Regions from separate parts of the Homo sapiens genome. Here region 1 is linked to region 2. Evidence: fine-mapped expression QTL. A gene starts in region 2. The other region holds a variant in brackets. All regions are shown on one strand. Distances are between the middles of the regions. Region 1 overlaps RASA2 (RAS p21 protein activator 2). Region 2 holds the start of RASA2 (RAS p21 protein activator 2).

What was found. PIP is the estimated chance that this variant, and not a neighbour inherited with it, causes the effect.
Region 1: its variant is the best candidate, but not a certain one, in a credible set for the expression of RASA2 in whole blood (INTERVAL, PIP 0.72).

The regions. Positions count from the first base shown.
Region 1 is chr3:141,547,514-141,552,891 of GRCh38, forward strand. All of the region lies in intron 5 of RASA2 (RAS p21 protein activator 2), which reads left to right. Among named protein-coding and RNA genes, the nearest start is that of RASA2-IT1, 25 kb to the left of the region's middle. The variant T/C (reference allele first, on the strand shown) is at 2,444.
Region 2 is chr3:141,484,806-141,490,183 of GRCh38, forward strand. RASA2 (RAS p21 protein activator 2) reads left to right here and starts at 2,222. Exons shown (of 24, transcript NM_006506.5): 1 at 2,222-2,411. The coding sequence starts at 2,279. RefSeq lists a silencer at 2,131-3,010.

The DNA.
Region 1 (5,378 bases), 63 kb after region 2:
ACAGAAACCCCACTGATTTTTGTTGTGTTAATTTTGAATCCTGCCACTTTACTAAATTTGTTTATCAGTTCTAATAGTTTTTTGGTGGAGTCTTTAGGTTTTTTCCAAATAAGATCATATCATCTGTGAACAAGGATGATTTTACTTCTTTCTTTCCAGTTTGGATGCCTTTATTTCTATCTCTTGTCTGATTGCTCTAGCTAGGACTTGAATAACAGTGGTGAAAGTGGGCATCCTTGTCATGTTCCAGATCTTAGAGAAAAGACTTTCAGTTGTTCCCCATTCAGTATGATACTAGCTATGGATATGTACTATATGGCTTTTATTGTGTTGAGGTTTGATCCTTCTGTACCTATTTTTTGAGGGTTTTATTATTATGAAGGACTGTTGAATTTTGTCAAATACTTTTTGGCATCAGTTGAAATGATCATATGGTTCTTGCCCTTCATTCTGTTGATATGATGTGTCACACTGATTAATTTGCACATATTGAACCATCCTTGCATCCCTGAGACAAATCCCACTTGGTCATGATGAATGATCTTTTTAACGTGTTGTCGAATTGGGTTTGCTCATATTTTGTTGAAGATTTTTGCATCAAGGTTCATCAGGGATATTGGCCTATAGTTTTCTTTTTTTGATGTATCTCTCTCTGGTTTGGTATCAGGGTAACACTGGCCTCATAGGATGAATTTGGAAGTGTTCCCCTCTCTATTTTTTGGACTAGCTGAGTAGGATTGGTATTAGTTCTTCTTGAAATATTTGGTAGAATTCAGCAGTGAAGCCATCAGGTCCCAGGCTTTTCTTTGCTGCAAGACTTTTTACTGTGGCTTCAATTTCATTACTTGTTATTGGTCTCTTCAGGTTTTGGATTTTTTCATGGTTCAATCTTGGTAGGTTGTATATGTCCAGGAATTTATCCATTTCTTCTAGGTTTTTCCATTTATTCTTTTTTTCAAAGTTTCTTAAGCTTTTGCTCTCCATACTCACTGTCTTGTAGCAGCAGAGTTCCAGTGGTAGCTTTATGGAATTTATTGTTGATTTCTCATCCTTATAGATATTCTGAAATTCATGACATTCTCTGTTTTTTAGTATTGCTAAAGGCATGGTTTCACATATGGCTTTCTTTGTGCTTCTTGCTGGACTTTGGTTTTGGGGGAGTAATGTATGGGAAGATTCATATCCTAGTAGTTACTATTATCCTCCAGACCTAGAAAGTCCCCACTACAACATTTTTTGAACTTTAGTGAGACCTCCCTGCCATCCATTGATCTTCACTGTGTTCCTGTTTTCACTTCTTTCTACATCTTTTTCCGTGACCTATTGCTGTAGTCATTTTCTCGCAGGTTCCGTAAACTCCCCTATTGTTCTCATCATTCTTATTTATCTGGAAAAACTCTAATTGAAAATGACCTCTTCCTCTGTGTTCAATCTGCACATGAATATAGCTGGAGAAAATCATGTAGGCTGATTTCACTTTAAATTTATCATCACAGGCCTCACATGGGCACTTATATCTGCCCTGGAATTTAACTGTGCTTCTCTAATACAGCTATAAGATTCTCTACCACCACAGCCTGGAAATTGCTTACATCTTCCTGAATCCAAATCTATAAACCTAATTTGCATCCATAATTTTGTCCTTAGAGCAGAGGAGGTACTCCTTTTCTTGACATTGAATTCTTCCATCTGAGCTCTGGATTCCATTTATTTCCTCTACTTAATGAGTTTTGCTCCTTCAGTTATGCCTTCTTTTTCTTGTTTTGTCAGCTTTACCTTCTCTCCTACATGGTTCTCACCACAAATAAACATGGTCTAGTATCTCTGTCCTAAAAGGCATGCCTCCCCAGACCTCATCTCTGCCCACCCATACCCCAGTCCTTTTTATCATTCCCATTCCTCTGCTCTCCTTTGAAGGCAGACTTCTCTAGGGAAAAATAGTGGTAGGAGTGTGTATGAGTGTGTGTGTGCGTGTGTGTGTGTGTGTGTGTGTGTGTGTGTTTGCAATTCTCCAGTCAGCACTCTCCAGTAGATTTTTCTGTGATGTGGAAAATGCTTTGTATCTTCACTGTCCAAAACAGTAGCCACTAGCCATGTGTGGATATTGAAAACTTGAAATACAGCTAATGTGACCAAAGAGCTGAAGTTTAATTTTATTTAATTTTAATTAAATGTAAAAAACCACACATGGCTAATGACTACAGCATTAGTGCAGCTTCAGTAAAAGAACCTGGACTCCTTTTTAGCAGTAGCTTATTTCAGGACTTGGGCAGGGAAAATATGAGATGAGTCTGGAGCATCTTGGGGTCTCAAAAAGTAAGAAAGTGCTAAAAAATAATGGGGATATGTAAAAAGGACATTGAAGCCAATGTAAAGGGACTTCAAATTACCAAATCTGGAACAATTTGAGCTTCAGAATAAATAATAATAGTGGATTAAAACT[T/C]ATAGAATAAAATAAATATAAGCGAATACTGGTACAAATAAACAATTAAAAACTCAAATACTTGGTAGGGAGAAAGGACTGATTTTTCCTATAGTAGAATTCTAGTTAATGAATGTAGGAGGAATGATGGAAATGAAAATCAACATTGGCAAACATCACAATAATAAGTGGGTGAGGGGACAATTCAAAAAATCATCTATGGATGCTAAGTGAGCATAAGTGTGGTGACAAGATGTCTGATAGATGCCACCTTAATTGAGTGATCAAAGTTAACATCACCAATAATGAGACATCCAGTACTTCCCAATAGGATGCATTGAGAAGGACACCAAGATACATAACCTCAACCTAATCATGAGTAAACATCAGACAAACTCAGATTAAGGAATACACTACAAAATAACTGGCCAATACTGGCAAGATCACGGGGCAAAGAAGGAAAACTAATGAACTGTCTCAGGATGGAGAGGAATAAGAAGACATGACAACTAAATGCACTATGGGATCCTGTATTGTGTCCTAGATCAAAAAAGGACATTGGTGAAATTTGAGTAAGGGCTACAGATTTCAGTAATTCTGCTGTGGTTCTACAAAACGTTAACATTTGTTGATGAGTATACAGAAACTATTATTTTAACAGCTTTTTTGAATATCTGAAATTATTTCAAAATAAGGTTTTTAAAATTGCCTGTACCTTGTGCATTCAACCCAGGTCTGTTTTCTGAGTTTCAGATTAATATGTCTACTTTGATGAATCACATTGCAAACTTAACACATTTAAAACTGAAGTACAGGGAGGCTGAGGCAGGAGAATGGCGTAAAACCGGGAGGCGGAGCTTGCGGGGAGCCGAGATTGCGCCACTGCACTCCAGCCTGGGCGACAGAGTGAGACTCTGTCTCAAAAACTGAAGTACTGATTCTCATGTCTATCCAACTCCTCCCCCAAAGTCTTAGCAAATGTTTAATTCCGCTCAGTATGTTTTTCATCTCTAGATTTTTCCATTTTTATTGTCTTCTGTGTCTGGATGGATCATATGGAATATAATTATAACTTTTAAATGTCTTTGTCTGCTAGTTCTGTCTTCTTTGTCATTTCTGATTCTGTTTCTATTGATTTTTCTTTTCATTATGGATCATAATTTCTTAGTTCCTTGCATTCCTGGTTATTTTCTGTTGCATGCCAGACATTGTGAAGTTGCTGGATATTTTAATATTTCTATGAATGTACTTGAGCTTTGTTCGGCACTTGGTTAAGTTACTTAGAAACAGTTTGATCCTTTTGTGGTTTACTTTTAACTTTTGTTAAACAGACAAGCACAGTCTTTACTGGAGGGCTTATGTTTTCCTACTATTAAGGCAGTACCCATGAATTACCAGGTTTTCTACTGTGGCTGATGGTACCTCTTGCTAGCCATGTGTGGGTTTTAGGAACTATTGCCTCTATTCTTTTCAAATGGTTCTTTCCCCAGCCTCAGATGATTTCCTCATATATACACGTATCAATACTCAGCTGAATACTCAGTGGGGATTCTTGTAGCTCCCTGGAGGTTTTTCTTTCTCTGTGCAACTTTCTTCCCTTTAGTACTCTGCCCTGGGGTCCCTAGTCACTTTGACCTCCTCCTGCTGACAGCTTTGCCTCTTCTTCTCAGAGAAACCATTTAGCTGTAAGCTGGGGCAGTTGGAGGGCTCACCTGTCCTTCACTGCTGATTTTGTTCAATTCGTTTTGGGTGGAGAGTAAATCTAGTTCCTGTTACTCCATCTTACCTGGATGTAGAAGTTAAAATTTTCTTTTAGTTTAAAAAAAAATCCAAAGAAAAGAATCAGATCAGTCTTATTCTGAACTGTTTATAATATTTTCTTACCTTTGTAAATTTTAGATACTATATTGTAAATGCTTTATATGTCACATATAAATAAAATATCAAATTCCTTATTGAGGTTATTTTCAACATTTGTTTTCTGCCCATCCATGATTTATGATATGAAATTGCTTACTTACAGATTGGAAGAACAGTGCTATGCTAGGTAATTAGAAAAATAATATTTCCAAATATATGTAATGAATAACCTATATTTAATAATATTACTTAAGTTTTGCAGAAAACTCAATTTTTAACTGTTTTATATTTAAAAATTAAGAGTACTGATGATTTCTGTAGGGTGCACTTCTGGTTTATGGGCATCCGTGTTTTGGTTTGTGGGTATTCTTATCGTTTCATAAGTTTTTTATAAGTCAGTACTGCATTTTCCTCTGCTTTTTTTTATACCTCATAAAATAGAAAATTGGATTTCTGTCATTAAGGTTTCTCATAATTGGTGTTTATGTGAGATAAATGTGGTATTACAAGGACAGTAATATTGTATTTGGGGGCACAGTGGGAATGTAGAAGGGCACTGGACTTCAGTAACAAAATTAAAAAGTAGAAGTTGAGTCTTGGCCAGCTTCTTACAAGTTACGCTACCTCTTTGAGCCTTACCTTGTAACTTCCTCACATAACCTGTGAGCCTTACTTCTTTTAAATGGCATAATTCTCTTCTCAAAGGCAGTTGTGAGAATTAGGTGCATTTTGTGAAAGTGCATAGTAAACTGCAAATGCCGTGTCAGATATCATTTTGAGGTTTAGCCTGAGAAGGGTAAGTTTTAAGCAGTATGTACAGTGGGAAAATCTGACTGTACCTCAACCCAACATTAAAACCCAGAATTATCTTGGCTTGTGTTTTCTTTGGCTAGTTTCAAAATTTCTTTCTTTATTTTTTTATGCTCAGCTATAATAGAAATGAGTCGTATTATCATTTCTGTCTTTACTCTGCAGTATACCAATAGCACTTCACTCACATCTGTGACCTGTGGGTTGTGGAGAGAAATAAGGATGTACTCAACAGCTTGCATCTTTCAACAAAGAATACTTTTCAGCAACACTCATGAGTTTCTCT
Region 2 (5,378 bases):
AGGGATAAATGAAGCCACTGATGTCCTCTTGAGCAGGCAACTGATAAGCTCCATTTTTTTTGTTAGGAAAGTTAATTTAAGTGGTATGTAGGAGGAATGAGAGGGATGGGGGACTTATTACCAGAGTTCCAGTCAAAAGCATGAGGTCAGTTACTGAGGTAATCCTACTACGTGCTCAGCATTCCACTAGACACTTAACACCCTGCTCCCAATACTTATTTAATCTTAATAACAACCCTTCAAAGAAGAAAGTTTAGCATTTCCACTTTACTGTTAAAGAAACAGGTTCAACCGGGCGCAGTGGCTTACACCCAGCACTTTGGGAGGCTGACGCGGATGGATCACTTGAGCCCAGAAGTTCAAGACCAGCCTGGGCAACATGGCAAAACCCCATCTCTACCAAAAATACAAAAATTAACTGGACATGGTGGCGCGCACCTGTAGTCCCAGCTACTTAGGAGGCTGACATGGGAGGATAGCTTGAGCCCAGGAAGTTGAAGCTGCAGTGAGCTGAGATCGTGCCACTGCACTCCAGCCTAGGCAACAGAGCAAGACTGTCAAAAAAAAAAAGAAAGAAAGAAAGAGAAGAAACAGAAACAGGTTTAGGAAGGTTGAGTAACTTGCCCAAATGTAAAAGGGGTAGAAACAGGCTCTATGTCTGATTCTAAAAAGGGATGCCTTTAAAAATAAGGGGGAAAAAACCCTGTAACACGTTGATACTCTTTAAATGAGAATAATTTTAACAAGGGCAATGACAGAGAATGGAAAGGAAGGAAGAGATTTCAGCAGAGTCAGAAGGATGTGGCAACTGAAAACAGCATTGGGACAAGGGATAAGAAAAAGTCAAAGTTTCTGGCCTGAGTAACAGTATAAGATGTGAACTCAGATTTGGAAAGGGAGACAGGAAATTAAGTTTTGGACTTATGTTTGAAATGACAGCAAAACATTCATATAAGAGGAAGTGGTTCACTTTATCCAACAAGTGTAAAGATCACATGGGGAAATAGAAGTCACCTGCAACACAGGCAGAACTGGAAGCTTCGCTGGCCAGGTCCATGTTAAACTCTGACCATTCTCTGGGGCTGTCCAGCCTTTGCACAGGCGGCGCGTTTGTCTTCAGTTTTCAGGTTTCCCCGTCCTATTTCTTATCTCCCAGTGCCTCTGGCCTTTTCTGTGTCTCCCTCCAGAATGAGCTGGAGCTCTCTTCATCTTGACCTTTGTGTAGTCTCTGAGGTCTGAGGCCATCACTATGTCTGACCCTCAAAAAATATTTGTTGACTGACTGGCTTATTCCTGTTGTTGCCCTGGAAAAGAATTACCCTGCCCGATTAAGTCACAGTTTCTTCCTTCTTAGGGCAGCGTAGTTAACAACCTCAACACCAGGAAATTGTCTTCCTCATCACATACCAGGGTATTATTCATGCAGTTTACTCACTGTAAAGAGTTCCCTTGAAATAAAGCTAACAATTAGTCAAAGATTTACACATTTCCTAGGGTCAGTCAACTTTTTAACAAAGCCAACTTTTAGTAGTGGTGGCGGTGGCGGGGGGGAGCCCTTCTTTGCTTTTTCTGTTCCTGAAATACAAAAGTGATGGTAAATGCTTCAGAATTTCTCTATGAGAGGGTCTCAGGCACTGCACTCACGCTGGAGTTGGGGGTGGCTGGTCCTTTTCTTGAACCAGGTTTTGCAGAGAATTGGTCCTAGTAAAGAGTATTTGTGTGGGAGGAGTTTGGCTTGCTGGCGGGGAGTATTTGGATAATACTGGAAGAGCCTCAAATGCATCTCTTGCCTCCTTTTGAATAAGATACTTTTGAGGTCCACCCACCTGCCAAATTCCATTCTATTTTCTTCCCACAGGGAGTTTCCCTGATTGGGAAGGGCCTGTATTTCCCGCGAGCGTTAGGAGATGTGCAGGTCTATTCATTGGGGGAGCCCAATTCCCGGGAGGATTTAGGGATCACGGGAGGGCCGGGGCGTTCTCCTGGTGGGGATTTTAAGGCCGCTCAGAGCCACGACTGGGAGCTACCCTTAGCCAGCGCCCCAAGCCGGGAGTACGGTTCTCTGCAGGGTAGCCCGGCTCGGGGGTGGCGAAGGCGGTGAATGGAGACCCGGGGGGGGCGGGGGCGGGGCCGCGGCGGGCGGGGCGGGGCGGGGCGAGTCGGGCCGAGGCCCGGGGGCGGGGCCAGGCGCGCGGCTGGCCTGGGCCTAGGCCGCTGCTGGGCTCCGCCTCGCCCGGCTACGCAGGCGGCAGGGCTGCGGCACGGGCCGGGCGGCACCATGGCGGCGGCGGCGCCTGCTGCTGCGGCGGCTTCTTCCGAGGCGCCAGCGGCGAGTGCGACTGCAGAGCCCGAGGCCGGGGACCAGGACAGTCGCGAGGTTCGAGTGTTGCAGAGCCTGCGGGGCAAGATCTGTAAGCGGGGGCTGGGCTGAGGGGACGCCCTGGCGGCGCTGGGCGCGAGGCTGAGGGGGCGGCGGGTTCGCGGCGGTGGCGGCGCCGAGCTGCGCTGGGATCGCGGGCCCGGGAGGGGGCCTGGGCCGGGCGCGGTTGAGGCTGGAAGGGGGTGTGTTGGGGGGCGGCGTCGCCTCGACGGGGCGGCGTGGGCCGGGGCTGCTGCTCTCCGGAGGGAGTGGGAGCTGGAGATGGGCCTGGGGTGGGAGAGCCCGGGCTGCGCCGGCGTGAGGGGCTCGGTCGTGGGGAGCGGCCTGGACGCGGGGACGCTGGAGTCCGGGGCGCGGCCGGGGGCGCGGTCCGGGGGCGTGAGGAGCTTCCGGCCGCCCTCAGACTCAGGCCTTCGCGCGGCTGCGGGCGCTGGGGAGTGGCCCCGCGGTGGGAGCCGAGCAGTAATTATACGGAGGCGCGGCCCGAGGAGGTGGCGGGCTGGGAAGTGGGGCTGGCCCGAGGGGAGGGGGCTGTTCGTTTCCTGGGCTCGGCGAGCCTGGGAGAGGTTGAAAAAGGCGCCCTGAGCTGCAGGAAACGGGCCGCCCTGGGGCCCGAGTGGCTACCGCGCGGTCTGTTCGCGGGTGAGCGCCCCGGGAGGAGCTCGGCGGGACACCTGTACTTGCCCCACCTCGCTGCGGCCGGGACTTGAATCGAGGGACGGCGTGACAGGCGGGACTAAAGGCAGGATGTAGTGGCTTCCTGTGAGCAGGTCTCAAAACACAATCACCCAGCCCGCACTCAGCCCGCTTAATTCCCTTCCTTCTCATGCGTGTAATTGCTACTTTAGTGAGCGAGCCTACCAGTTGACTAAATACGAAATTTTGCTCAGAGTTGTCCGAGCATTACTGTGGACAGATTATTTGAGTTCTGTCATTTGAACATTTTAGTTTTAAAAACGACCCTTTGGTGTCAGGTTGCCATTTTTTTTTTCACAGTGGTTTATTTAGATGAAGTGCTTTTTGTTTTCTGTTTGTAAGAGAGATCAATAACATTTATTTTTGCATTTGTCGAAAATTAGCATTATTTTCTTCATGCAGTATTCTCAGATTGGAAACATGCTTCATGTTTCTTATAAATAACCCTCAATTATGAGGGCGTACTTTTCACTTTGAAGAAAATTGACTTGCATTAAAGTGGCTAACAATTCTTTCCTGGGCAGGATGTAAAATTTTCCTCTCCTCTAATACCAGTACTGTTGAGCTCACATTCTCCCACTTTTCCTCTTTTCAGGTGGTTCACGTATTTGGGATTTTATGAAACCTCAGAAGCAGACATGTTAACTTTTCTTATCTTTTTATTCCCTGAGGTAGTCCTGGGGCTCTTAAGAGATTACAGTTCTTAAAACCTGGAAAGTGACACCAGAGAGGTAGATCTTAGTTCCCAAAATTAAAGTTACTTTCTAGGGCATAAAACCTTTTCAGAATTCAGATTAAATTTTATTTATTTTTTCTTTTTTCTGTAACCTTATATTTGAGGGGAAAATTTTGTTTTCAACTTTTGCATATATCTAATTTAACATTTGGGAAAACTGTAAATGGGCCAAAGTTTCTCCCTTTATATGATTTTCCAGATTTTTACCACTTTCTTAGTGCCACTTGATGCTAGGCATTGTCTATTGGAGACTCACTGGTACGTAACTGCAGGTTTTACCATGGAACTACATATACACATGTCTTGGAATTGAGGGTTAGGGTTTCCAGAAGGACTTAGTTGTCCTGTGCTTTTGTCTGCCCCATGCCAAAGACCACTAAGAACAGTTTTGTAAGTGAAACTTGGGTCTACACGTTAAAAAAAAGAAAAACAAAAAACCACTTTGTTTCTATGGTTTAAAGCAACCCTGGCTTGGAAATTGATCATCCAGCTGCTGGGAATGATATTACTGCTTTAACCACAGTTGAAGTATTCTATCTGTTATCCTAGTCAGTTTCTTGCTTTTTAAATTGCTTATCTTATAGCTCAGGTTATGGAGTGTCTGCTTTCTAGAAAAAAAAAATGTATTTGTATACTTATATACAGAAGCTCTCTTCCCATTTCTTTGTCCTCCTTTTAAATGATGTAATCCACAGTTGGTTGACATTCAGAACCTTGTGAAGAGATGCTGTTTTCTGTTTCCCTGAAACTAACATGTGGGTTTTGTAGGGTGGGGACTGAGGGGTTGGAAGAGTCATTAGCAGGTGTCAAGGTCACAGAAATGAGATGGTGGTGGTTCTGACAAGATATTAAGCAGCTTGGGGAGGGTGTAACCGTGTCAGCTTTTCTCTTCACCACAGTAGGAAACCTTGGAAGAAAGCCTGATAGTGCCCACTAGGAGATGTGCTGGCAGATTTTATACTACTGATTGAGAGCCTCTTTTCTGGAGAGTTAGAGATCTGTAGGGGCTGAAAATTAGCCTGAAGAAATTTTCTTATTTCTGGACTTGCATAGGACTTTTAAACTGCACATCACCCCAGTGAAAAGTGAGGATGGATTGGTTTATGTATCTTGAATGTTCAAGAGATAATAGTCCATAACCTTCTTTAGGGATTTCATTCCTGTAATTATTTCCCCTTATACTTCACAAGGTGAAATATCTGTCAGTTGGACAGATATTTGTCTATTGGACAAGAGGAAACTTAACAAAAAGTGGTAACCAAAAAGGTGGAGGTCACAAAATAACAACATGAGACCTCAATATATATAAAGGATGAAGCCCCAATACCCCTTTTTTGCTTGAGTGTACTTTTTTTTTTTTTTTTGCCGGGGGGCTGGGGAGGAGGGAAGAAGGGACATGCAAATATGTTTCAGGTGTTTTATATGCGCTCAAACGAACCCAGGGAATTCGAGATCCATCTATAAGACAAAATATTGTCAGCAACCCTGGATTTGCTGCAGTTTGCGCTAGGAAACCATGACAGTTCTGAATTGTCTGCTTCCTTAAACTTTTTCAAGAGGTGAGTT